7 linked regions of the Homo sapiens genome follow. The protein of the gene in region 5 purifies or fractionates together with the protein of the main gene of each other region. This does not show direct contact. Each region holds a gene or a part of one and is shown on either strand. Other genes may lie near its edges. The genes, in order: SLCO5A1, TMLHE, TARS2, CYP24A1, NIPSNAP3A, OCIAD1 and MCCC2.

Region 1 (3,500 bases), on a different chromosome or scaffold from region 5:
TTTTTAAAACTCTTTTTCTGCTTCAGAATTTGGGGGGAAATGAAAATTGGCTTGTTGGCCCAACTAGACTTTTTCACAATCCATAGAAGTTAAAATAAAGTTGAATTAAATAATAAATGTCTGAAATGTTCTCCCTCCACTTATTCTTGATGCTGTAGCATACATCTGTTGACTCACCTTTACCTCCAAATCATATCAAATGACCCCAACTCCACGGCATCAGAGAGGGGCAAAGCAAAAAGAAGAAATTATCTTTTTCTGGCCAGGCATTGTGGCTCACATCTGTAATCCCAGAACTTTGGGAGGCCAAAGCGGGTGGATCACCTGAGGTCAAGAGCTCAAGACCAGCCTGGCCAACATGGTGAAACCCCATCTCTACTAAAAAAAAAAACAAAAAAAAAAAATGCAAAAATTAGCCAGGCATGGTGGCAAGTGCCTGTAATCCCACTTACTTGGGAGGCTGAGGCAGGAGAAACACTTGAACCCTAGAGGCAGAGGTTGCAGAGAACTGAGATTGTGCCACTGCCCTCCAGCCTGGGCAACAGAGCAAGACTCTGTCTCCAAAAAAAAAATACATATATATATACATATATATTTCTTTTCTTATTCAATTACCCCTTTGGTTAACAAATCTCCTTATTTCTAAATGTTATTTCTAAATAATACTGTTTAACTTTTAACAAGATCTATAAGACTGACTTTTTTTTTTTTTTCAGACAGAGTTCTGCTCTTGTTGCCCAGGCTGGAGTACAGTGGCTCCATCTCGGCTCACTGCAACCTCCGCCTCCCAGGTTCAAGCAATTCCCCTGCCTTAGCCTCCTGAGTAGTTGGGATTACAGGTAGGCACCACCACACCCAGCTAATTTCTTTGTATTTTTAGTAGAGATGGGGTTTCGTCACGTTGGCCAGGCTGGTCTCGAACTCCTGACCTCAGGTGATCCACTCACCTCGGCCTCCCAAAGTGCAGGGATTAAAGCATTAGCCACTGCACCCGGCCTAAGGCAGACTTCTTCACTATATCTAAGTGTGTCAGGATTTCCTTTAAACAGCATGTTTTTTAAAAAATGATAGCCTCAGAGTCTTATTAGTACTGAAAAAAACAAGCCACTCATTAAATGGAACTAGAAGCATTTTCCTCCTGGGGCTTATTGAAAATGCTCATTCTTGGACTGGGCCATCAACCACAACATATGACAAATGGAGAATGCCAGGGGATTCATGCTTCAGGGGGTCAGAAGATGCCCTTTTTAAACATTACCTCTTCAAAACTGAAATAAGAAATTTGAATCAAAAAGCAATTTTTTTGTCTTGTAGACAATGACACTGATTACTGAGGAGAAAATAACAGCTGAAGGAAATGACAGACTGCCACTTGAGAAAAAGACATTATAAAAGGAAAAATAAGCTTGATGACAAAGACGTCAATTTAAAATACATTGAAACTGATCAAAGGAATGTTGTATGTTACATGCTTATTTCCCATTGTCTCAAGAACTCACAGAGGGATGTGGTGTTTGTAAAAATAAGACCTATGTTCCACCCGTACAAATGTACTCTGTGGTTTATCACATGGACACAGCACTACTGAGCTTCTCTTGTTGATAAGTAAATACTTACAAGGCAGTCCCTATATGTCACTTTGGAGACCTTTCTTTTCCTTTTTAAAGTTTTTTCTTTTTCTCAGAAAACTTGATAGGTATACTCTTTGTTTAGTCCAATAAAATTACTGTAAAGAAGTGAGGCATTGAAAACTTCACAAATAAAGACCAATTTCTACTGCTTTCATAGTAAAAAGGCATAAAGGGGTCAAAATGCTAGGATTACAAATTCTTCACAAATTGCTTGATTTCCTATTTCTTACTGTGCAAAATTCTGGGGAATTTTGTCCAAGTTTATGTTCATAATGAAAAAGAAACTAACCTAACGTTGGTTTTGTTTTGTTTCATCAAACAACAGAACCTGTCAGCTTCTAGTTCAAATCAGAAAACAAGGAAGTTGTACCCTCACCACTAGCCTGTAAAATCTTATTCATGGTAATAAATGACATGACTTGCCATTTTTAAAGGACAGTGAAAATTTGCCATCTGCAAAGAGGAACTAAGAGGTACACTTGGAAATTCAGGGACGTACCAAGTGTTCGCAACAAAACAAACTGCATTCCCAGTGCAAAAGGTCTCTCCTCATCTTCTACGGACCTACAGTGAAGGGAAAGAAGGAAATGCATTTTAAATAGTAGCCCCAAGAAAATGAATGTCAAATCAAGTCGGCTTTGTGCAGAGCCAGGGACTAAAGATGCCATGCCAAAATATTTAATTCACTATTATTTACTAACAATAGCCACACAAGATTGCTGGTGGCTAAATCCCTGAATAAAGGTTTTCCCAATGTAGACATCAAAGAAACTCTGACTATCTCTAATTGTTTCTACAAAAATACTGGTAGAGGGTTAAAGGCTTTTGGCTGAAGAAGCTGGAATGCCTCTAACTGAGCTTCCAAAATCAGATCCATTTTTTTTTAATTATAGAATTTCATCTTAAATACTGCACGGTTTTTTTGTTTTTGTTTTTGTTTTTGTTTTTTTGCCTGTGTGCCTGCATCTTCCAGAGTGGTAGATGCATACATTGAAAATTACTCCAATAATTCTTCCAAAACAGGAAGAAAGAAGAGTAAAGAATAAAAGTATATTCAAAAAATGTATAGGAAACAAGTCAAAGATCAGAGGAAGCATAAGCCCTCCAACCACATCTTTTTTTCTTTTTTAAAAACTTATACTCCAAGTTATTCCCATGTGACAGGAAGATTGGAGTCAACTGGTTCTGTAATTAGCAAAGATTAAAGGGCTCCTTTTCTGAAATTTTAGGTTAGAAGCCAACTGGCGATTTGCCATTTATGAACACCAAAAGAAAAAGTAGCCAATGGGTTATTTAACATCTCTTGAGGAATTAAAGTGCAAAGAATAAGATTATTTGAGTAAATTTATGAATGATTCATGTCTTTTTAATGCTGCAGTACCTTAACCTCTCCATCACATACCCATGAGAGTATGGTATATAATAGGAACTTTCCCAAGACCAGTGCCCTTGTCACCTTTTCCCCAATTTCTTTATTTCTCAGAGCAATTTGCAAAGTGCTGCACACAGGTTGTTATTCCATAAATATCTGCTGCTGGAAGAACTGAGTAAACAAACCAGTGGGCCTTTCATGCACTACTATCTGGCTGTCAAGGAACAGCTTTGCTGGGAAATGCCTGATTCAGCACCAAGTGGGAAGGAAGCCAGAATACATCTGGTGCAGCCAACTGCCCTTGCTAAGCAATGACATCTCAGCAGGTGCTTCCTGCAAGGTGCCCAGCATTGTGGCATCTGAGGAGCCTGGAGAAAGAGTAAGAACTGACTCCCTTTCTTCATTCCTTCCCTGCACTGCACCCCCTAATCCCCCCTAATCCCCTTCCCTGCACTGCACCCCCTAATCTGGGCAGAAGCTGCCCAGACCCATGGGTG
Region 2 (3,500 bases), on a different chromosome or scaffold from region 5:
AACAAAATTGATAGACCGCTAGCAAGACTAATAAAGAAAAAAAGAGAGAAGAATCAAATAGACACAATAAAAAATGATAAAGGGGATATCACCACCAATCCCACAGAAATACAAACTACCATCAGAGAATACTACAAACACCTCTACGCAAATAAACTAGAAAATCTAGAAGAAATGGATACATTCCTCGACACATACACTCTCCCAAGACTAAACCAGGAAGAAGTTGAATCTCTGAATAGACCAATAACAGGCTCTGAAATTGTGGCAATAATCAATAGCTTACCAACCGAAAAGAGTCCAGGACCAGATGGATTCACAGCAGAATTCTACCAGAGGTACAAGGAGGAACTGGTACCATTCCTTCTGAAACTATTCCAATCAATAGAAAAAGAGGGAGTCCTCCCTAACTCATTTTATGAAGCCAGCATCATCCTGATACCAAAGCCGGGCAGAGACACAACCAAAAAAGAGAATTTTAGACCAATATCCTTGATGAACATTGATGCAAAAATCCTCAATAAAATACTGGCAAACCGAATCCAGCAGCACATCAAAAAGCTTTTCCACCATGAGCAAGTGGGCTTCATCCCTGGGATGCAAGGCTGGTTCAATATACACAAATCAATAAATGTAATCCAGCATATAAACAGAGCCAAAGACAAAAACCACATGATTATCTCAATAGATGCAGAAAAAGCCTTTGACAAAATTCAACAACCCTTCATGCTAAAAACTCTCAATAAATTAGGTATTGATGGGACGTATTTCAAAATAATAAGAGCTATCTATGACAAACCCACAGCCAATATCATACTGAATGGGCAAAAACTGGAAGCATTCCCTTTGAAAACTGGCACAAGACAGGGATGCCCTCTCTCACCGCTCCTATTCAACATAGTGTTGGAAGTTCTGGCCAGGGCAATCAGGCAGGAGAAGGAAATAAAGGGTATTCAATTAGGAAAAGAGGAAGTCAAATTGTCCCTGTTTGCAGACGACATGATTGTTTATCTAGAAAACCCCATCGTCTCAGCCCAAAATCTCCTTAAGCTGATAAGCAACTTCAGCAAAGTCTCAGGATACAAAATCAATGTACAAAAATCACAAGCATTCTTATACACCAACAACAGACAAACAGAGAGCCAAATCATGGGTGAACTCCCATTCACAATTGCTTCAAAGAGAATAAAATACCTAGGAATCCAACTTACAAGGGATGTGAAGGACCTCTTCAAGGAGAACTACAAACCACCGCTCAAGGAAATAAAAGAGGACACAAACAAATGGAAGAACATTCCATGCTCATGGGTAGGAAGAATCAATATCGTGAAAATGGCCATACTGCCCAAGGTAATTTACAGATTCAATGCCATCCCCATCAAGCTACCAATGACTTTCTTCACAGAATTGGAAAAAACTACTTTAAAGTTCATATGGAACCAAAAAAGAGCCCGCATTGCCAAGTCAATCCTAAGCCAAAAGAACAAAGCTGGAGGCATCACACTACCTGACTTCAAACTATACTACAAGGCTACAGTAACCAAAACAGCATGGTACTGGTACCAAAACAGAGATATAGATCAATGGAACAGAACAGAGCCCTCAGAAATAATGCCGCATATCTACAACTATCTGATCTTTGACAAACCTGAGAAAAACAAGCAATGGGGAAAGGATTCCCTATTTAATAAATGGTGCTGGGAAAACTGGCTAGCCATATGTAGAAAGCTGAAACTGGATCCCTTCCTTACACCTTATACAAAAATCAATTCAAGATGGATTAAAGATTTAAATGTTAGACCTAAAACCATAAAAACCCTAGAAGAAAACCTAGGCATTACCATTCAGGACATAGGCATGGGCAAGGACTTCATGTCCAAAACACCAAAAGCAATGGCAACCAAAGCCAAAATTGACAAATGGGATCTAATTCAACTAAAGAGCTTCTGCACAGCAAAAGAAACTACCATCAGAGTGAACAGGCAACCTACAACATGGGAGAAAATTTTCGCAACCTACTCATCTGACAAAGGGCTAATATCCAGAATCTACAATGAACTCCAACAAATTTACAAGAAAAAAACAAACAACCCCATCAAAAAGTGGGCAAAGGACATGAACAGACACTTCTCAAAAGAAGACATTTATGCAGCCAAAAAACACATGAAGAAATGCTCATCATCACTGGCCATCAGAGAAATGCAAATCAAAACCACTATGAGATATCATCTCACACCAGTTAGAATGGCAATCATTAAAAAGTCAGGAAACAACAGGTGCTGGAGAGGATGTGGAGAAATAGGAACACTTTTACACTGTTGGTGGGACTGTAAACTAGTTCAACCATTGTGGAAGTCAGTGTGGCGATTCCTCAGGGATCTAGAACTAGAAATACCATTTGACCCAGCCATCCCATTACTGGGTATATACCCAAAGGGCTATAAATCATGCTGCTATAAAGACACATGCACACGTATGTTTATTGCGGCACTATTCACAATAGCAAAGACTTGGAACCAACCCAAATGTCCAACAATGATAGACTGGATTAAGAAAATGTGGCACATATACACCATGGAATACTATGCAGCCATAAAAAATGATGAGTTCATATCCTTTGTAGGGACATGGATGAAATTGGAAACCATCATTCTCAGTAAACTATCGCAAGAACAAAAAACCAAACACCGCATATTCTCACTCATAGGTGGGAATTGAACAATGAGATCACATGGACACAGGAAGGGGAATATCACACTCTGGGGACTGTGGTGGGGTCGGGGGAGGGGGGAGGGATAGCATTGGGAGATATACCTAATGCTAGATGACACATTAGTGGGTGCAGCGCACCAGCATGGCACATGTATACATAGGTAACTAACCTGCACAATGTGCACATGTACCCTAAAACTTAGAGTATAATAAAAAAAAAAAAAAAAGAAGAAAAGTACAATTGTTCCAATAGAAAAATGTGAGAAAGGACTGAACAGACAAATCATTAAAGCAGGAGTCAGCAAACATTTTCTATAAAGAGCCAGATGGTAAATATTTTCAAACTTTGTGGGCTATATGAGTGAATGGAGCTATAGACAATATGTAACAACATGGACAGCATGTGTTCTGAAACAGGCATTACAAAACCAAGCACCAGATTTGACTCATCAACCATAGTTTGGTAGTCCCTGCATTAAAGAAACATAGATGTCTAACAAATATAGAAAGTATTCTTATTAGCCTTAGTAAGCAAATAAGTTAAAATTATTACAAGATAGCAGTTCCACTTTAGTTACCAAATTAGAAAAAAATATATTTTAAAAATAAGAATACTCCATTTTGATGGACACATATGTACTGTTGGAGGGAATGAAGATAAGTAGACTTTCTAAAAAGTAATTTGATTATGTATATCAGAACTCTTAAAAGTTTATATCTTTGAAATTTCTAAATACAAAGATACGAACTTTTAAGAAATGTAATATACATTCTATTTCTAAATTATA
Region 3 (3,500 bases), on a different chromosome or scaffold from region 5:
CCTATTAAATACCAGGTCCCATCTCTATGCTCCCCGACTGCAGACCACACAATTGTAGTATTAAAGGTCACCAGCACTTTCAATATTTATGTTTATGATTCCAAACCAGCCCCCCCACCTTTTTTTTTCTCTTCAAGACGGAGTCTCACTGTATCACACAGGCTGGAGTGCAGTGGCTCAATCTCAGTTCACTGCAACCTCCCCTTCCTGGGTTCAAGGGATTCTCCTGCCTCAGCCTCCCCAGTAGCTGGGACTACAGGCGCTGCCACCACACTGGCTAATTTTTTGTATTTATTTTAGTAGAGACAGGGTTTTGCCATGTTGGCCAGGCTGGTCTCGAACTCCTGACCTCAGGTGATCTGCACGGCTCAGCCTCCGAAAGTGCTAGGATTATAGATGTGAGCCACTGTGCCCGGCCCCAACCCCCATCTTTTAACACAAACACCTTAGCTTCTTCTAGTCCCTCAGCCCCTCCCTGGTCTTCTTTCCTCTAGACCTGGGTCCCCTTACCCTGATAAACGCCACTAGTGCATTATACACCCTTGTCCCTCGTGGCAGGAAGAAGCAGCTCCCAGGGCTCAGTTCATGGAAGAAGAAGAGCTCCTGTTCCTGGGGTCAGGAATAGCAATATTGGGTCACCTCAAGGGCAAGGAGGTGGCTTTGGAACTCAGAACAACTGACGGAGCTGCTCAGTCTGTGTGACTGAATCTGCTCCCAATTTCATAATCAGGTTCTGTCATCTCTCTCCAACCCTTATCACCATCCCTCCCTATCTTCCCAATTCCTGTACCTTCCCAATGCGCCGGTGGTCCCGCAATTCTGCTTCCTCCCTCCATGCTTCCCAGACCCTCAGCAATTCTGTTGTGGGGAAGGAAATCCCTGACACTCTCTGCAGTGTCTCTGGGGCCCCTGAAGACCTCCATAAGGATGATGAGTTCTGTGTGAGGACATAGGGGATCAAAGGAAAGATGAGGACTGAAGGCCCCCACCTTTTTCAAGACTCAAATGATACTCTCAGTGTTAAGTGTCACAGGTATGCCTCTTGACAACAATCCCACCAGTAGGATGAACACCTCCATCCTCTAGACACCATTCTTCTAGATTAAAGTGTTGAAATTGCCTGACTCTTAATTCCTACATACAACCTGGTCAGGCCTAACCTTACCTTGCCATCTCTTTTTCTCCCCATTCTCATTACCCCTTTACTTAGTTCCTTCCCATTCTAATCAATGACTGCTTAGAGGAATAACCATAAGCTCTGGTCAAATGTCAGTCTATTCCTCCATTTATCAATATCCTATACAGCTGCTAGAAAAGTCAGTCTTCTATACCATATCCCATTCCTGGCCACATGAAATCCAAAAGCCTCTGCCTGCTCTCTCCTTTAACAGTACTAATGAGCCGGGCGCGGTGGCTCACGCCTGTAATCCCAGCACTTTGGGAGGCCGAGGCGGGCGGATCACGAGGTCAGGAGATCGAGACCATCCTGGCTAACATGGTGAAACCCCGTCTCTACTAAAAATACAAAAAAATTAACTGGGTGTGGTGGTGGGTGCCTGTAGTCGCAGCTACTCGGGAGGCTGAGGCAGGACAATGGCATGAACCCGGAAGGTGGAGCTAGCAGTGAGTCGCGATCGCACCACTGCACTCCAGCCTGGGCGACAGAGCAAGACTCCATCTCAAAAAATAACAAACAAACAAACAAACAAAAAAGTACTAATGAGAGGCCGGGCGCAGTGGCTCACACCTGTAATCCCAGCACTTTGGGGGGCTGAGGTGGGTGGATCACAAGGTCAAGAGTTCAAGACCAGCCTGACCAACATGGTGAAACCTTGTCTGTACTAAAAATACAAAAATTAGCCAGGTGTGGTGGCACGTGCCTGTAACCCAGCTACTCAGGAGGCTGAGGCAGGAGAATTGCTTGAACCTGGCAGGCAGAGGTTGCAGTGAGCCGAGATCAGGCCACTGCACTCCAGCCTGGGCAACAGAGCAAGACTCTGTCTCAAAAAAATAAAAATGAAATAAAATAAAACTGTTAAACAGTACTAATGAGAAACAGTCTATACGTGTGTGTGTGTGTGTATATACATCTGTCACCCAGGCTGGAGTGCAGTGGCGCGATCTCGGCTCACTGCAAGCTCCGCCTCCCAGGTTCACGCCATTCTCCTGCCTCAGCCTCCCAAGTAGCTGGGACTACAGGCCACCACCACCACACTCGACTAATTTTTTTTTTCTTTTTTTGAGACGGAGTCTCGCTGTCGCCCAGGCTGGAGTGCAGTGGCGTGATCTTGGCTCACTGCAGGCTCCACCCCCCAGGGTTCACGCCATTCTCCTGCCTCAGCCTCCCAAGTAGCTGGGACTACAGGCGCCCGCCACCTCGCCCAGCTAATTTTTTGTATTTTTAGTAGACAGGGTTTCACCGTGTTAGCCAGGATGGTCTCGATCTCCTGACCTCATGATCCGCCTGCCTCAGCCTCCCAAAGTGATGGGATTACAGGCGTGAGCCACTGCGCCCGGCCACACCTGGCTAATTTTTTGTATTTTTAGTAGAGACGGGGTTTCACGGTGTTAGCCAGGATGGTCTCGATCTCTGGACCTCGTGATTCACTCGCCTCAGCCTCCCAAAGTGTTAGGATTACAGGCGTGAGCCACCACGCCCAGCCCCTATATGTATATTTTTTGAAACAGAGTCTCACTCTGTTGCCCAGGCTGGAGTGCAGTGGTGCAATCTTGGCTCACTGCAACCTCTGCCTCCCAGTTCAAGCAATTCTCCTGCCTCAGCCTCCCGAGTAGCTGGGACTACAGGTGCATGCCACCACGCCCAGCTAATTTTTTATTTTTAGTAGTGACGAGGTTTCACCATGTTGGCCAGGCTGGTCTTGAACTCCTGAGCTCAAGTGATCCGCCCAACTTGGCCTCCCAAAGTGTTGGGATTACACGTGTGAACCACCGCACCTGGCCGACAGTCTGTATTTTACAGCACTTTTTAACTTTTCCTTTTTCCTGAATTAGTTGGTTTTCATTATCTTTTTTTTTTTTTTTTTTTTTGAGATGTTGTCTCGCTCCGTGGCCCAGGCTGGAATGCAGTGGCACAATCTCAGCTCACTGCAACCTCTGCCTCCTGGCAGAGTTCAAGTGACTCTCCTGCCTCAGCCTTTTTTGTAGCTGGGATTACAGGCGTAGGCCAGCACACCCAGCTAATTTGTGTATTTTTAGTAGAGACAGGGTTTCACCATGTTGGCCAGGCTGGTCTCGAACTCCTGACCTCAAGTGATCCGCCTGCCTCACCCTCCCCAAAGTGCTGGGATTACAGGTGTGAGCCACCATGCCTGGCCTGGTTTTCATTATCTTTATGAGGTGAATTTACTGGTAGGACAAAAAGGAATTAATAGCCTCATTTTATAGATGGGGAAAATAAGTAAGATTTACCCAAGGCCACCGCGCCATGGGGTTTTGCCATGTTGGCCAGGCTGATCTCAAGTGATCCACCCACCTTGGCC
Region 4 (3,500 bases), on a different chromosome or scaffold from region 5:
TTTTGTGTTTTTTAAGTAGAGATGGGGTTTTGCCACCGGTTGGTCTCAAACTCCTGACCTCAGATGATGCTCCCACCTCCACCTCTGAGAGTGCTGGGATTACAAGCATGAGCCATTGTGCCCAGCAGAGTAACTAATTATTTTTAAAGTTCATGTACCATCCAGAGCTATCTCACATATTCCCAGTGGTGTACCTGCCAACCACTGTGGAACACAAATACGGGGAAACCTTGAAAGGCTGGGAAGAAATAAGTAGAGTTTGGAAAACATGGAGGTAGTTGGAAAAGCTGTGGGTGGGTGCTGACTAAGCTAATTGACTCTCACTCCTCAGGTTTATGATTTTAGGCCATTTGTTTACCTTTTTAATGCTAGTCTCCTACTTTATAAGTCAAGAGCCAATTATCCACCACTAAAAAGTTGGTTGCAGTAATCCTGTATAATTTTTTTTTTCCAGACTGTGTCACTCAGGCTAGGGTGCAGTGGCCAGTGGTATGATCTCGGCCCACTGCAACCTCGGCCTCCTGGGCCCAAGAGATCTTCCCACCTCAGCCTCCAGAGTAGCTGGAACTACAGGCACATGTAGCCATGCCTGAATAATTTTTTTATTTTTATTTTTTTGTAGAGACAGCGTTTTGCCATGTTGCCCAGGCTATTCTCGAACTCCTGGGCTCAAGCAGTCTGCCTGCCCGAGCCTCCTGAAGTGTTGGGATTACAGGTGTGAACCACCACGCTCGGCCCTGTGTCCTTTTTTTAAAAAAAAAAGGTTACAAGAGATAATTTTTAGGACAATGGGGAACATTTTAAAATGGGACACAGTAGATTTTTTATGGAATGGTCGCTAAGGTTCTTAGGGATGTTAATGACATTGTGGTTATGTTGGAGAATGCTTTATTCTTAGGACATTACTGCTAAAGTATTTAACGGTGAAGTGACCTGAGAGCTCAAAATTATTTTCAGATGCTTCAGCACACACAACCACGTATACACTTGTATGCATACATACACACAAAGAGAAAGAAATGGCAGCAAGATGTTGATGAGTTCGGGGGATTCAGGTATTCATTTTACCATTCCTTCAACTTTTCTCTAGGTAAAAAGTTTTGAAATGAAGAGTTGAGAATTTTATTTGTAAAAAGGTTCCTTCTAAATAAAATGATGAAATGGAAGGAAAAAAAACCCTATATGAAGTGCTAGCCCAGTACCTGGCGTGTAATGGGTGTTTAGAACATAATTATTCCCTTCCCTTCTCTTCCTCTGGTGAATGGCTTCCAATTCATTATGTCAGGAGATAGAATCCAATAAGTGACTCTAAAAACACAGCTGGGTTAGAGGCAGAGTGCAGACCCGACCCTGCAGCACCTTTGCTAGGGCCCCTGGATCTCCTGTGTGACTTGATCAGGACAGTGGATCTCTGATCATGACACTCTGAGGTGATGAGTCATTGGACCTGGAGATAATTTCTAGAAAAAGAAAGTGATGGTGTCCCCTTTCTCTCAGACTCTGCTTTTCCTCAATATTCTTGGACTGTTGCCTTTTCTCAGAAAATCCCACACTTTTAAGAGGCATAGAATTGAGTCTTTAATAACCAGCTAAACATAGACTCCAACTCCAGCATTGCTGTTTGTGTAAAGTGATGATTATTTTAAATGACAGGTATCTGCCTCGTGTTGTATGAGAAGAGATTTGGGCTTCTCCAGAAGAATGCAGGGGATGAAGCTGTGAACTTCATCATGGCCATCAAAACAGTAAGCAGCCTCTTTAAGAAAGCAGTTTTCTTGATTGATGTTTTACAGATCGATTTTTACAGAACTTCACAGTGATTCCCAAAAAATGGCATACACACATATTTTATTTCAATAGTTAAGTGTTCATTTTAATGTGCATTATATATTTTAGTATATTTATGTGCATATATGCGGCTGTCTCCAACCTTTTTGGCACCAGGGACCAGTTTCGTGGAAGACAATTTTTCCATGGACAGGGCAGGGTGGTGGGGCAGGGGAGGGAGGATCATTTAAGTGCATTACGTTTACTGTGCACTTTATTTCTGTTATTATTATATACTCACCATAATGTAGAATCAGTGGGAGCCCTGAGCTTGTTTTCGTGCAACACGAAAGTCCCATCTGGGGGTGATGGGAGACAGTGACAGATCATCAGGCATTAGATTCTCATAAGGAGTGTGGAACATAGATTCCTCGCATAGGCAATTCACAATAGGGTTCACACTCCTGTAAGAATCTAATGCAGCCATTGATCTGAGAGGAGGCAGAGCTCAGGTGGTAACACCTGCTGGCCCGCTGATCACCTCCTGCTGCGCGGCCCCGTTCCTAACAGGCCACTGACCAGTACTGGTTCACGGCCTGGGGGTTGGGGACCCCTGGATATATGCACGTAACATAAAGAAGCACATTAAATCCATTATTTCTTTGTTTAGGCAAGGTTAAAATAGCTATTTTAATTAAAGATCAGTTGATTAAAAATACTTTTTAAAAAGAGCCCAAAATTTTTCAGATTTTATCTTTTTGAATAGTTTGGGTGGCGTGTAGATAGGATAAACGCTGTGAAATTGGTTTGGAAATCACTGAAGTTTGGAAATTATTAGAAATTGAAGTGAATATGAAAGTTATCGTTTTTCCTCTTTTTTTTTTTTTTTTTACAATTAGGTCATAAGATTACAATTTTTATCAAACACATCCAGTGGAAAATCATCCCCCACATTACCTTCAATATTGAAAGGAGGTGGAGGTGGGGTACGGGCATTGCTCCCAGGACCGGTGCAGAGAGAGCCGGGGGTGTCCTTGTAATTCCAGCCTTTTAAAAAGTGCAGGGTGCTGCGGTTTAGAATGTTCCTCTTCCAGAACGAACATTGTCTTTGAGAGAAGGAGAATTCAGAATAAAAAGGCATTTGCATTTCTCTCAGATGATGAGCACGTTTGGGAGGATGATGGTCACTCCAGTCGAGCTGCACAAGAGCCTCAACACCAAGGTCTGGCAGGACCACACTCTGGCCTGGGACACCATTTTCAAATCAGGTAAAGGGCCGCCCTTCACAACCAGCCAGAACCAGCCCAGCACCCCCGTGTCTGGAGCTTCAGAGAGGAGGTCTGGAGTGATCTCCTGAGCCTCATCACCACATTTAGGTTTTGCAAACACAGGTGTTTTGGGGATTGCCCCAGCATACACAAATTCTAAGTAACAAGCTTTCTGTAGTCTTCTTTGGGAATTAAGAGTGGTTAAAAGTAAAATCTGGCCAGGTGCAGTGGCTCACCCCTGTAATCCCAGCACTTTGGGTGGCCCAGGCGAGCAGATCACTTGAGGCCAGGAGTTTGAGATCAGCCCGGTCAACACGGTGAAACCCAGTCTCTACTACAAATACAAAAATTAGCTGGGCGTGGTGGTGGGCACCTGTAATCCCAGCTACTCAGGAGGCTGAGGCAGGAGAATTGCTTGAACCTGGGAGGCGGAGGTTGCAGTGAGCCAAGACTGAGCCACTGCAC
Region 5 (3,500 bases):
AAGAATTTTCCAATCTATATTTTCATTCTTTCCAATTTCCACTATGTTTTTCTTCATATAATTTCTCCCTATAAGTTTCCATTTTTAACAGGAACAGCAAAGCAAAGAGTGGACCTGAAGTGATATCTTTGAATTTTGGAGGAAAAAAGACAAACCTAAAGAGATGGTTTTATTTTTCCTAAATATCCAGGTAAATACTTGAAAAGTATTGTACACTTTGGACAGAAGTATAGGGCTGGTGGAGAGAAAGAAACTCTGGGACAAGTAGGAAAAGCATGTAAAAATTTCCAAGCAGTGATGTACACAGAGGAGGAGAACCAAGATTTGACACTGTCAGAGAAGTGAACTATTTTATTTAGATAGTGCTGAGAGCTGAGGGGACACCTAAGTAGGTAAAGATCCAAGGAAGACTTTGTAAATTTTTTGTAACCTAAATACACTACAAAGTTGGGAATAATGGGGGAAGTAAAATAACATTTAAATAAGTTTATGCTTTTCTAATCTGACCTTTATTTAAAACTGGATTGAGGTAATAGTTTCTTTAAGTCAGCAAGAAGTGAAATCAGCAAGAAGACAAATCTTAAGCAATTACTTTCAAACTGAGAAACAAGAAAGAAGACACAAAAGTTAGATTAAAGTAATATAGCTTGGCAGTTTCACTTAATCTGTTTCCCCCAAATACTCAGTTTTATAAGCAAAGCTGTATTTAATGATTTAAGATTAGTTATAATTTATGGAAATACTTTTACATTTTAAAGATCATATTATTTTAAAATTATGGCAAAACTTCTTATGCTATCCCTTACCTATCAACACGTTCTCTGCTCCCAATGCACAAATTCTCAACCTCTACTGACCATGTCAGCTTTCTCTATAACACAGTTAAGCTTTACAAATCTGCAAGGTCTCAATTTGAAAAATATCTCATTATTTTATGCTCATTTTTTTAAAGGATGGGGTAAGAGCTCCCATTTATTTTTACCACAACAATCACTGTATGTTTCTATATAAAACAAAGAATTAATTTTATTTTTTTCCAAAGGAACTTCAGTTTTGATCACTTAAGTTCTTTAGTATTTTATTCATCAAAACTCAGTGACTAAGAAGGAAGGACTTACCTTCTTTTGGAGGTTTTTCTAATTTGCACCATGGTACCAGATAAGTAATCTCACTCTCTTGTTTATCAATGAGAGCCAAATTTGGAATGAGGAATTGTTCTTGCCATTCCTTATCTTTGGCCAAGGCTTTCCGAACTTCAGTTCGATGAGCAAAATTATCTGTGGGAAGAAAAGAATTAAGAAAAATAAAAAATTCAATTTTAAATCACCTGTACTTTTCTGGGTTTCATTCACATCAGCAATGGTCATTGATGCCATATAAGAACCTTGTGTTAGGCCTTTGGAGACACCAACGTAAACAGATGTGACCATCTGCCCTGAAGTTGCTCAAGGACAAAAAGGGCAGTAGAAATGCAAACTAACTGTAATGCCACATAATAGGCTTTATAGGCTCAACCATATAGTAGGCAGTTTTGTGAATTAGGTAAGTTATTGAATCTTTCTGTGCCTCACTTTCTGTGAAATTGAGATAATAAGACATCTACCTCCAGGGTTGTATGAGGATTAAATTAACACATGAAAAGAGTTTAGAATATAGCGGTTGGCACTAGTTAATACTCAGTATATGTGAACTATTCTTACTTGATTGAGGCATTTAACTTATAGTGCTAGTTTAGAGAAAGACTGTTTTTCTTTGGTGGTGGTGGGTAGTCAAGTTCAGATACACCCTGAATCAAATTTAACATGAGTGAAGTTAAAACATCTTGAATCAAATTTAACATGAGTGAAGTTAAACCGTACTTTTTAAGCCTCTTCTCCTTTGAACAAACAGATTTCAAAGAAATAATGCTGATTCTCTTATTGTCATCCATTCTTTCTCCCCAGCACTTATTTCTCTTCTATTTAAGTTACCCAAACAGTTATATACATTTGCCAACATATGGGCCTAGTACTATAATTACCATTAGGACCTCATAAGACTAATGGCAAGAGAGGTTCATATGGTTTACATTGGGATAAGGAAGAATACCTATCTTACAACTTAAGTGAGGTATATCAGAACTTAGTTTTTTTAATGGGCTGTGATACAACTTGTACCACATCTAAAGCATAAAATGTATTTTAATGGGGCTTTTTCTATTAACAGGGAAAAACCCTAAACCAAACACTAAATGAAATTATTAAAAATTCTTTAGGTATCATCAAGTCCTGATGTAGACACTGGAGTAACAAGCATTCTGGGCATTCTTGTAACTTATTCTCCTTCCTCTACTAAACCAGGCGTAGGTTAGTTTCAACACGGGAAGAACTCTCTTTCATTCCTTTTCTTTTACCTCCCTAGAGTAGTATGACAGTGAATTCCTCAAAACTCTGGGGGTACAGATATGAAACAAATGTGGTCTCTAAACATAACAGAATTATTAAATCTCAGAGTTCAGTGAGGATTGAAAGTTAACCATCATCCCCTATAAACCTCCATATTGTGAAGTCCCTTAAATGGTTGAATTATTTCTGCTAAAATACTGATATCCAGCCCCCTAGCTTCAAAAAGAGAAAAGATACTTCTCCTTTCCTTTTGTGATCTTAATCCACTTGGACTTTTACAATTGCTGCTTTAAATTTTTCATGAACTATCTTTACAGCAAACCATTTTAATATTTTTCTGAGGTTTAAAGTCTAGTTCACAATTTTATCGCTTGATATATGAGATGCCATGTCTTCCAATTTATAATGTAATATAATGTAATGTTTAAGCAAGGGGTTAGAGGTGTACCACTGGGAAGAATAAGAACTGAATTTATTTTTTTGGTATTGCTTTTCAAAAGTCTTAGTTAACCTGTATGTATCTAAAATAATATACATCCAAGAACTAAGTTTTATGTTACATTTAACAGAATGAAAATCTATACTGAAAAATGAAAATCTATACTGAAAGCCAAAATTGGATGACTCTTTACCATACTTCCAAATATGAAACACTGTATTCATTCTGCCTCCAAATTCTACACTCCAGTATCCAACCAATTCAGAGTGAGCTGTCCGAAGATGAGCGTTTTTCTCAAAATTTTCCAGGAACTCATTCATCTTTGAGGGCTTAAGGTAATAAGAACGAAATTCATAGAATATTCCATCGTATTGTCTGGGTCCCGTAGCAAAAGATGAGCACATCTGAAGAAGATAAGACAAATGTAAATATCTTGAGAAGACAGGATTCATTATATTGTGTTAAAACCTAATCTGAATCTGGTACAAGGGACACTCATAGACTCATTACTCATGTTTGTACTTCTGTTGTCAATTCTCAATATGTTACTGATGGAGGGTGTCCAGGTTCTTGGTGTTTGAACAAAGAACTGGACAAAATGCACAAAGCAAGGAAAGAATGAAGTAACAAAAGCAGAGATCTATTGAAAATGAAAGCACACTCCACAGGGTAGGAGT
Region 6 (3,500 bases), on a different chromosome or scaffold from region 5:
CAGCTACTCAGGAAGCTGAGGTAGGAGGACTGCTTGAACCCAGGAGGTCAAGACTGCAGTAAGCCATGATTACACCACTGCACTCCAGCCTGGGTGACAGAATAAAACCATCTCAAAAAGAAAAAACAAACAAACAGAACAAAAAAACACGAGAAAAACCCAAATGTACAAGAAAATCAATCTCATTACTCAATCATTCTGTGGTTAGGCCACAAGTGGTATTACAGCGCAACGCCAACCTCAGGTCACTACAGCAACTTATGCGATAGATGTATCATTAGGAAAATAAGACTATCAGATCTCCAAGGAGATTTGTTGTAAGAGAGAAACAGTCAAATGAGTATGTCTCTACCCTGTGTTAAACTAATCTTGCTGTCTTAAGACTTACTATTTGGACTTCACTATTTTCTTCCTTTTTTTGGCGGGGGGAGGGGGGAACAGAGCCTCGCTCCGTCATCCAGGCTGCAGTGCAGTGGCGTGATGTCGGTTCACTGCAACCTCTGCCTCCTGGGTTCATGCAGTTCTCCTGCCTCAGCCTCCCGAGTAGCTAGGATTACAGGCATGCACCACCATGCCCAGCTGATTTTTGTATTTTTAGTAGAGACAAGGTATCGCCATGTTGGCCATGCTGGTCTCCAATTCCTGGCCTCAAGTGATACACCCAGCTTGGTCTCCCAAAGTGCTGGGATTTCAGGCATGAGACACCACACCTGGCCTTGACTTCATTATTTTCTAACACAAAATGGCCTTTGGAACACCTTAAAAATGGAAAACTGGCCGGACACGGTGGCTCAAGCCTGTAATCCTAGCACTCTCAGAGACTGAGGCAGGCGGATCACAAGGTCAAAAGATCGAGACCATCCTGGCCAACATGATGAAACCCCATCTCTACTAAAAATACAAAAAATTAGCTGGGCGTGGGGGCCTGTAGTCCTAGCTATTTGGGAGGCTGAGGCAGGAGGATTGCTTGAATCCAGGAGGCAGAGGCTGCAGTGAGCCAAGATCGTGCCACTGCACTCCAGCCTGGCGACGGAGCAAGACTCCGTCTCAAAAAAAAAAAAAGAACTGATAACTGTAAAGTACTATTTTAAAAATATTTTACTTTGGTTAATTGCTTGAAGAGTTAAATCACATATTAATTAATTTTTTATAGTATTGTTTTAAAGTAATGTTTTAGTTTCCAATCCTCAACAGTAAAGTGATTCAGACTAAACTATCATACCTTCTTTTTTTGGCACTCTTTCATGCATAGGCCTGACTGAGGGGTCAGTCTTTTGTGTTAAAGATACTTCATATGACTCTCTGTTCTTATTCCTTAATTCCTCATATGTAATATTTTTTCTTTTAGGACTTTCTTCAAGGTTGGGATCAGGTCCTAAAACAACAAACAGTTAATAAATGGTAATAAAAGGATTTGTATAACTCTAAAGCAACTAAATTTTACAAATGCTCCTTACAAAAGGAGCTACAATCAAAATAGAATAAAGAATCAAATTATTACCACCATTTCACAGGTACTATACTTTCACCAAGATAATCATCAAACTGAAATCTACTTCCACCCATATTTTTAAGCTTTTATTTCTAAAAATTAAAATGGACATCAAAAATTTTAAAAACTAAACCACAGCCAGAAGAAAAATATGTATCATAATATATAACAGTACAATTTAAACTCATTAAAATACCAGTGTTTTAAACTGGAGTTACTCATACTGTATACAGAATTAAAAGAGAAATATATTCTACTAGGGACAACTGAATAAAACTTGACATAGCATAGATTTTACTCAATATATAGTTAAATAGTCCTATAACCACAGACTCTATGAAAACAACTCCAGCTATTTTCAAAAATCATTTATTTTACCTTTTTACAAAATTTAAACAAAAATACTGAAAATAGGCCAGGCACAATGGCTCACAACTATAATCCCAGCACTTTGGAAGGCCGAGGCGGGCGGATCACCTGAGGTCAGGAGTTCAAGACCAGCCTGGCCAACAAGAAACCTCATCTCTACTAAAAACACAAAATTAGTTGGGCGTGGTGGCACACACCTGTAATCCTAACTACTAAGGAGGCTGAGGCAGAATCGCTTGAACCCAGGAGGCGGAGGTTGCAGTGAGCTGAGATCGCGCCATTGCACTCCAGCCTGGGCAACAAGAGCAAAACTCTGTCTCAAAAAAAAAGGAAAAAAAGTTGAAAATAATTACTTGAAAAGTATAAAACATAGCCTTTAATCAGAATATGTGTTGTTTTCATTCCAGTCTAACAGATGCAATGTTGATGCAGAAGAAAGTATCAACTGTTATTTTGGCCTGGGAACTAACATTTATTCTTTATTTCTCCCAAAGAGAGTCAAAATGTGAATATTACATATTATCATAGAGTCAAATGTAAATATAATGCAGTGGTTACTCCTAATATTGGTTGACAGGATCAAATAGTGAACATAGTTTATACAATTTATAAACAGCAAAAAAGGCCATATGAACATTAAAAAAAAAAGATGCTAACATTCAGTGAACAACTACTTAACTTACAAAGTCTTACCTACCACATACCACACCAAAAGTACTGTTTTTCAAAGATGTTTTCAATAAGACATACAAATTGGGCATATACTTTTAATATTAACTTTTTAAAAAATAATTTTTGTGATACTTATTTAGAACTCAAAGGTAGGATCCCAGTGAATAATCAGAATTTTCTAAGCAACATAACTATACATTAAATAATGTTTTCAACCATAAACTTTTTTTTTTTTTTTTGAGACAGAGTCTCACTCTGTTACCCAGGCTGGAGCACAGGGGCACAATCTCGACTCACTGAAACCTCCCCCTGCCAGGTTCCAGTGATTGTCCTGCCTGAGCCTCCCAAGTAGCTGGGATTATAGGCATGTGCCACTATGCCCAGCTAATTTTGCATTTTTAGTAGAGACAGGGTTTCGCCATATTGGTCAGGCTGGTCTTGAACTCTGACCTCAGGTGATCCACCCGCCTCGGCCTCCCAAAGTGCTGGGATTACAGGCATGAGCCACTGCACCCAGCCATTTTCAACCATAAACATTTATTCTGCTAAATAAATATATACTATACTTATATAAAGCAAAGAGGATTTAAATTTCTCCTAATTAGTTCTAGTATTATATGATGGTTCAAAACTACATTTTTCTTACTAAAAAAAGAATGTAAAGAAAAATATTATAACCTTATATTGGGATTAAAACACTTTGCATTTCATTAGTAATAAGTAATTACTGAACTCATTTCCCTTCACCATATATGTTATATTAAAAATTCTGAAGGAAATCGTGTGTACTTCAGGAACCTTGGGTTCTTAACCCCACTCTGCTGACAATTAGGAAATGTCCTTGGGCAAATCACTAAGCTTCTTTGAATCCTGGTTTTCTCAATTGCGAAATATGGTAGTTTGAGCAGATGATCTCTGAAGTTCCTTCCAGGTCTAATACTTTTTCTTATAAAAAATATTTTACCAT
Region 7 (3,500 bases), on a different chromosome or scaffold from region 5:
ATAATTTATTACCTCATTAAGTGGTGTAAGAAAAAAACCGAGCCAACAGCGGCAATGGTCTGTGAGGTAATTATTTGGCGCCGACACACAGACCCTGGCAGTGACTAATCACCTTTCAAACGTACAAGCATACTTGTCAACAAATGCCAGTAAGTGTTCAACCAATCTCATGTTTAAAATGGGGTAAAAACAAAATGATCAAGGAGAGGGGTTTTTAAGCAAAAATTAGAACTTCTGAAGTAACACAGCCAAGCTTATAACTTATTCTCGGCTCCTAACATGGCCCACCTTGGGCTGCAGGACCCCTCCAGGCCCCAGACACCTCAACTAGGGGGAAGACAAGGGAAGCGAGAATCAGACCACTGGTGGTGAGTCCACAGTGCAGGGATGCTGGGAGGAGGGGTGGCATTTCAGCAGTAGCCATTCAGATTGTAAAGAAACAACAGTACAAAATTAAGTGTGTCCAAATGTTATTTTCCAGTTCCTATGAATGCTGGACCATCTCAACTACACAGAGCTCTGTAAAGCTGTTCCTCTGACTGCCATCTGCACCCATCAGAGAGTTAGTGATGTTCTGGCCCCCACCTTGCGCTGGAATAGTAAGGGTTTCCTTCCTCTTCAAACTTCTTAATGATGGGCTCTTTTAAAGCCGCTTCATCAGCACTGGAGAACTAAAGGAAAAGAGGCCATGAGTAAGTCAGCTTCAGTGAACAACTGGCCCTGTTTAGATCATCTCAATTCAAAAGAAACAACAGATGTCATGAATAATAATGTTACATCTAACATGTGCATAGTGATGTATAAATTACAAGTGATCATTAACATACACGCTAAGACATGAGTATCAAGTTAGTGCCCCATCCCATCTCTCCTAACAGAGACAATATCCTGAGGCTATTTCACGTAAGGTGAAAGCCCAGGGTACTGTGTATCACAGCAAGGTACAATAATAGATGTGAATTATACAACCCAACAAAAGGGCTGCATTACACTTAGCAACCTCCAGTTAAGAATGTGGAAAAGTATGAGATTCTCATTTAAAATAGCCAAAATTTAAAACTTAAGCTTAAATGTTTAAGCTTAAAGGGGTAAAATACCAACCAAATCTTGAATAACCTTTTCAGTCAAGTTCCCAGAGAACTGAGAGATATTTTCCCCTAATTAAGAATTTCACAGCCTTCCCATCAGTATTACAAGGATCAAGTGATAATTAATTCAGATGTAAAAATCTTCAGAACTTAATTTGAAACCCTGAAAAATACTTTCAACTCAAAAAGCAACTCGACAGCAGAAACAAAGACTTATTTCAAATAAACTCTACCTTCTTTTACGTAAATATGCTAATACCTTAATATCATTTTCTAGGTCACGAATTCTGAGGGAGAACCATTAACACACTGTGCTTTCCTTTCCTGTATAAAAATGAATGAATTCAAGTATCTGTATATTGAAGTAATCAAAGAACAACTACTTAATAAGAGATCACCATGCTAGGCTTCATAGAGTTTCAGACATGTCTTTGAAGTATCAGGTAGAATTTCATATCTCACCTCCCCCACCCACACACCCACACCCCAACCACTCGCACAAAAGCAAAGCTATCTGTTTCCTTTGATACTAGTAGGTACTAAAGTGAATCTGAAACCTCAATGTAAGTCTCCAGAGTTCCGAGTGCTTGGAAAAGACAACTAGGGATGTGAGGCATGGATGGATGCATTCAGGGAGGCAGTACCTCACTCCACAATCTAGGTGGAAGACCTGATGATTCCTGCACAGAGCAGACAGGGCTCCCTCCATTCCATCCCTTCCCATAATGAGACAACAGTGTACCTAAGCAACTTCAGGAACACACAACCATCATCTTCATACTTGGTGCTTACACAGGAGTTAAAAGTTGTAACTAATAAAAATTAATGCAAAATTTCAAACAATCTCCAACAGAGACACAAACAAAAGAATTCATTTTAAAAGCAGCCGCTTGCTGATCTGCCTTTCATCAAGTTTCCACTGCCCTTTCCATTTTTCTTCATTTATACACAGGATAATGTTATTCAATTCTCAATAGATGACGGAGCCCTCCCACTCAGGGTATCCTTAACAACAATCTAAAAGTAAAATAGAAAGAACAAAATTCTGCTGCTTTTGGTCATAAAATCAAAGTAGTACATCAGACTTATTTAAATCTCACTAAGTACAAATGACTAAGAATCAAACATCTTTATGCCTCAGATACTTACTGTCAGTTTCTAAAGTGTTTTCTTGGCTGGGCATGGTGGCACACACCTGTAATCCCAGCACTTTGGGAGGTGGGCAGATCACTTGAGGTCAGGAGTTTGAGAGCAGCCTGGCCAACATAGTGAAACCCTGTCTCTACTAAAAATACAAAAATTAGGCCGGGCGCGGTGGCTCAAGCCTATAATCCCAGCACTTTGGGAGGCCAAGGCGAGTGGATCACAAGGGCAGGAGATCGAGACCATCCTGGCTAACACAGTGAAACCCCATCTCTACTAAAAATACAAAAAAATTAGCCAGGCATGGTAATGGGCACCTGTAGTCCCAGCTACTCGGGAGGCTGAGGCAGAAGAATGGCGTGAACCTGGGAGGCGGAGCTTGCAGTGAGCCGAGATCGTGCCACTGCACACCAGCCTGGGCGACAAAGCGAGACTCTGTCTCAAAAATAAATAAATAAATAAATAAAAATACAAAAATTAGCCTGGCGTGGTGGCACACACCTGTAATCCCAGCTTCTCAGGAAGCTGAGGCATGAGAATTGCTTGAACCCAGGAGGTGGAGGCTGCAGTGAACCGAGATTGCGGCACTCCACTCCAGCCTGGGTGACAGAGCGAGACTCTGTCTCAAAAATTTTAAAAATAAATAAAAATAAAATAAAAAAGTGTTTTCTTGGAAATTCTGAAACAATTTTAAATGGCCACAAAGAAAGTACCCCAAATGAAATGGCTTTAAAAAGATAAAGGACAGAAATCATGTGATTTGCTGGAACAACTTCCAGGGCAGCACAGTCTAAATATGGCCAGGCAGTGTGCGCCAGGTCCCCAGCCATGAACACCAAGGGCTTCCAGGCACGCTGCTCCTTGGCTCCAGGGTGTTTATGGTGAGAGGCAAAACCAGAGAGAAACAAGAGAAAACGACACCGACCTGCTTTCCTTCCCGGGCTCTTTGGTCCTTTGTTATCGTGGCCAACACATTGGCTGCCTGCTCTCCTCCCATCACTGAGATACGAGCATTTGGCCAAATGTAGAGAAATCTTGGGCTGGGGGAAGAAAAGGAAGAATAAACAAATTAAGTCAATATACAACATAGATTTTCAGAGGCCCATGTTTGCCTTTTAAATTAGTGGTTCCTGATTCTGGCTGCACATTACAATCATCTGTAGAGCTTTCACAAATATACAAATGCCTGGAACACACCCCAGACTAGACTCCAGAGGAGGGTCCTGAGCACAGATGGGACTTCTAAGTTCTCCATGTAATTCTGGGTAT

Evidence for each region.
Region 1: the proteins of NIPSNAP3A (region 5) and SLCO5A1 fractionate together in Homo sapiens (co-fractionation; one large-scale study listed by BioGRID). This does not show direct contact.
Region 2: the proteins of NIPSNAP3A (region 5) and TMLHE purify together in Homo sapiens (affinity purification with mass spectrometry; one large-scale study listed by BioGRID and IntAct). This does not show direct contact.
Region 3: the proteins of NIPSNAP3A (region 5) and TARS2 purify together in Homo sapiens (affinity purification with mass spectrometry; one large-scale study listed by BioGRID and IntAct). This does not show direct contact.
Region 4: the proteins of NIPSNAP3A (region 5) and CYP24A1 purify together in Homo sapiens (affinity purification with mass spectrometry; one large-scale study listed by BioGRID and IntAct). This does not show direct contact.
Region 6: the proteins of NIPSNAP3A (region 5) and OCIAD1 purify together in Homo sapiens (co-immunoprecipitation; one large-scale study listed by IntAct). This does not show direct contact.
Region 7: the proteins of NIPSNAP3A (region 5) and MCCC2 purify together in Homo sapiens (affinity purification with mass spectrometry; one large-scale study listed by BioGRID and IntAct). This does not show direct contact.

Annotation. Positions count from the first base shown.
Region 1 is NC_000008.11:69,674,479-69,677,978, forward strand, and holds part of SLCO5A1 (solute carrier organic anion transporter family member 5A1), read right to left. Parts: intron 2,196-3,500; coding exon 2,131-2,195; intron 1-2,130.
Region 2 is NC_000023.11:155,515,453-155,518,952, reverse strand, and holds part of TMLHE (trimethyllysine dioxygenase, mitochondrial isoform 1 precursor), read left to right. Parts: intron 1-3,500. UniProt on the Homo sapiens protein: Converts trimethyllysine (TML) into hydroxytrimethyllysine (HTML).
Region 3 is NC_000001.11:150,493,919-150,497,418, reverse strand, and holds part of TARS2 (threonine--tRNA ligase, mitochondrial), read right to left. Parts: intron 938-3,500; coding exon 791-937; intron 610-790; coding exon 511-609; intron 1-510. UniProt on the Homo sapiens protein: Catalyzes the attachment of threonine to tRNA(Thr) in a two-step reaction: threonine is first activated by ATP to form Thr-AMP and then transferred to the acceptor end of tRNA(Thr). Also edits incorrectly charged tRNA(Thr) via its editing domain.
Region 4 is NC_000020.11:54,163,987-54,167,486, reverse strand, and holds part of CYP24A1 (1,25-dihydroxyvitamin D(3) 24-hydroxylase, mitochondrial isoform 1 precursor), read left to right. Parts: intron 1-1,653; coding exon 1,654-1,745; intron 1,746-2,923; coding exon 2,924-3,035; intron 3,036-3,500.
Region 5 is NC_000009.12:104,750,683-104,754,182, reverse strand, and holds part of NIPSNAP3A (protein NipSnap homolog 3A), read right to left. Parts: intron 3,228-3,500; coding exon 3,017-3,227; intron 1,278-3,016; coding exon 1,119-1,277; intron 1-1,118.
Region 6 is NC_000004.12:48,855,088-48,858,587, reverse strand, and holds part of OCIAD1 (OCIA domain-containing protein 1), read right to left. Parts: intron 1,376-3,500; coding exon 1,223-1,375; intron 1-1,222. UniProt on the Homo sapiens protein: Maintains stem cell potency. Increases STAT3 phosphorylation and controls ERK phosphorylation. May act as a scaffold, increasing STAT3 recruitment onto endosomes. Involved in integrin-mediated cancer cell adhesion and colony formation in ovarian cancer.
Region 7 is NC_000005.10:71,649,840-71,653,339, reverse strand, and holds part of MCCC2 (methylcrotonoyl-CoA carboxylase beta chain, mitochondrial isoform 1 precursor), read right to left. Parts: intron 3,272-3,500; coding exon 3,157-3,271; intron 672-3,156; coding exon 586-671; intron 1-585. UniProt on the Homo sapiens protein: Carboxyltransferase subunit of the 3-methylcrotonyl-CoA carboxylase, an enzyme that catalyzes the conversion of 3-methylcrotonyl-CoA to 3-methylglutaconyl-CoA, a critical step for leucine and isovaleric acid catabolism.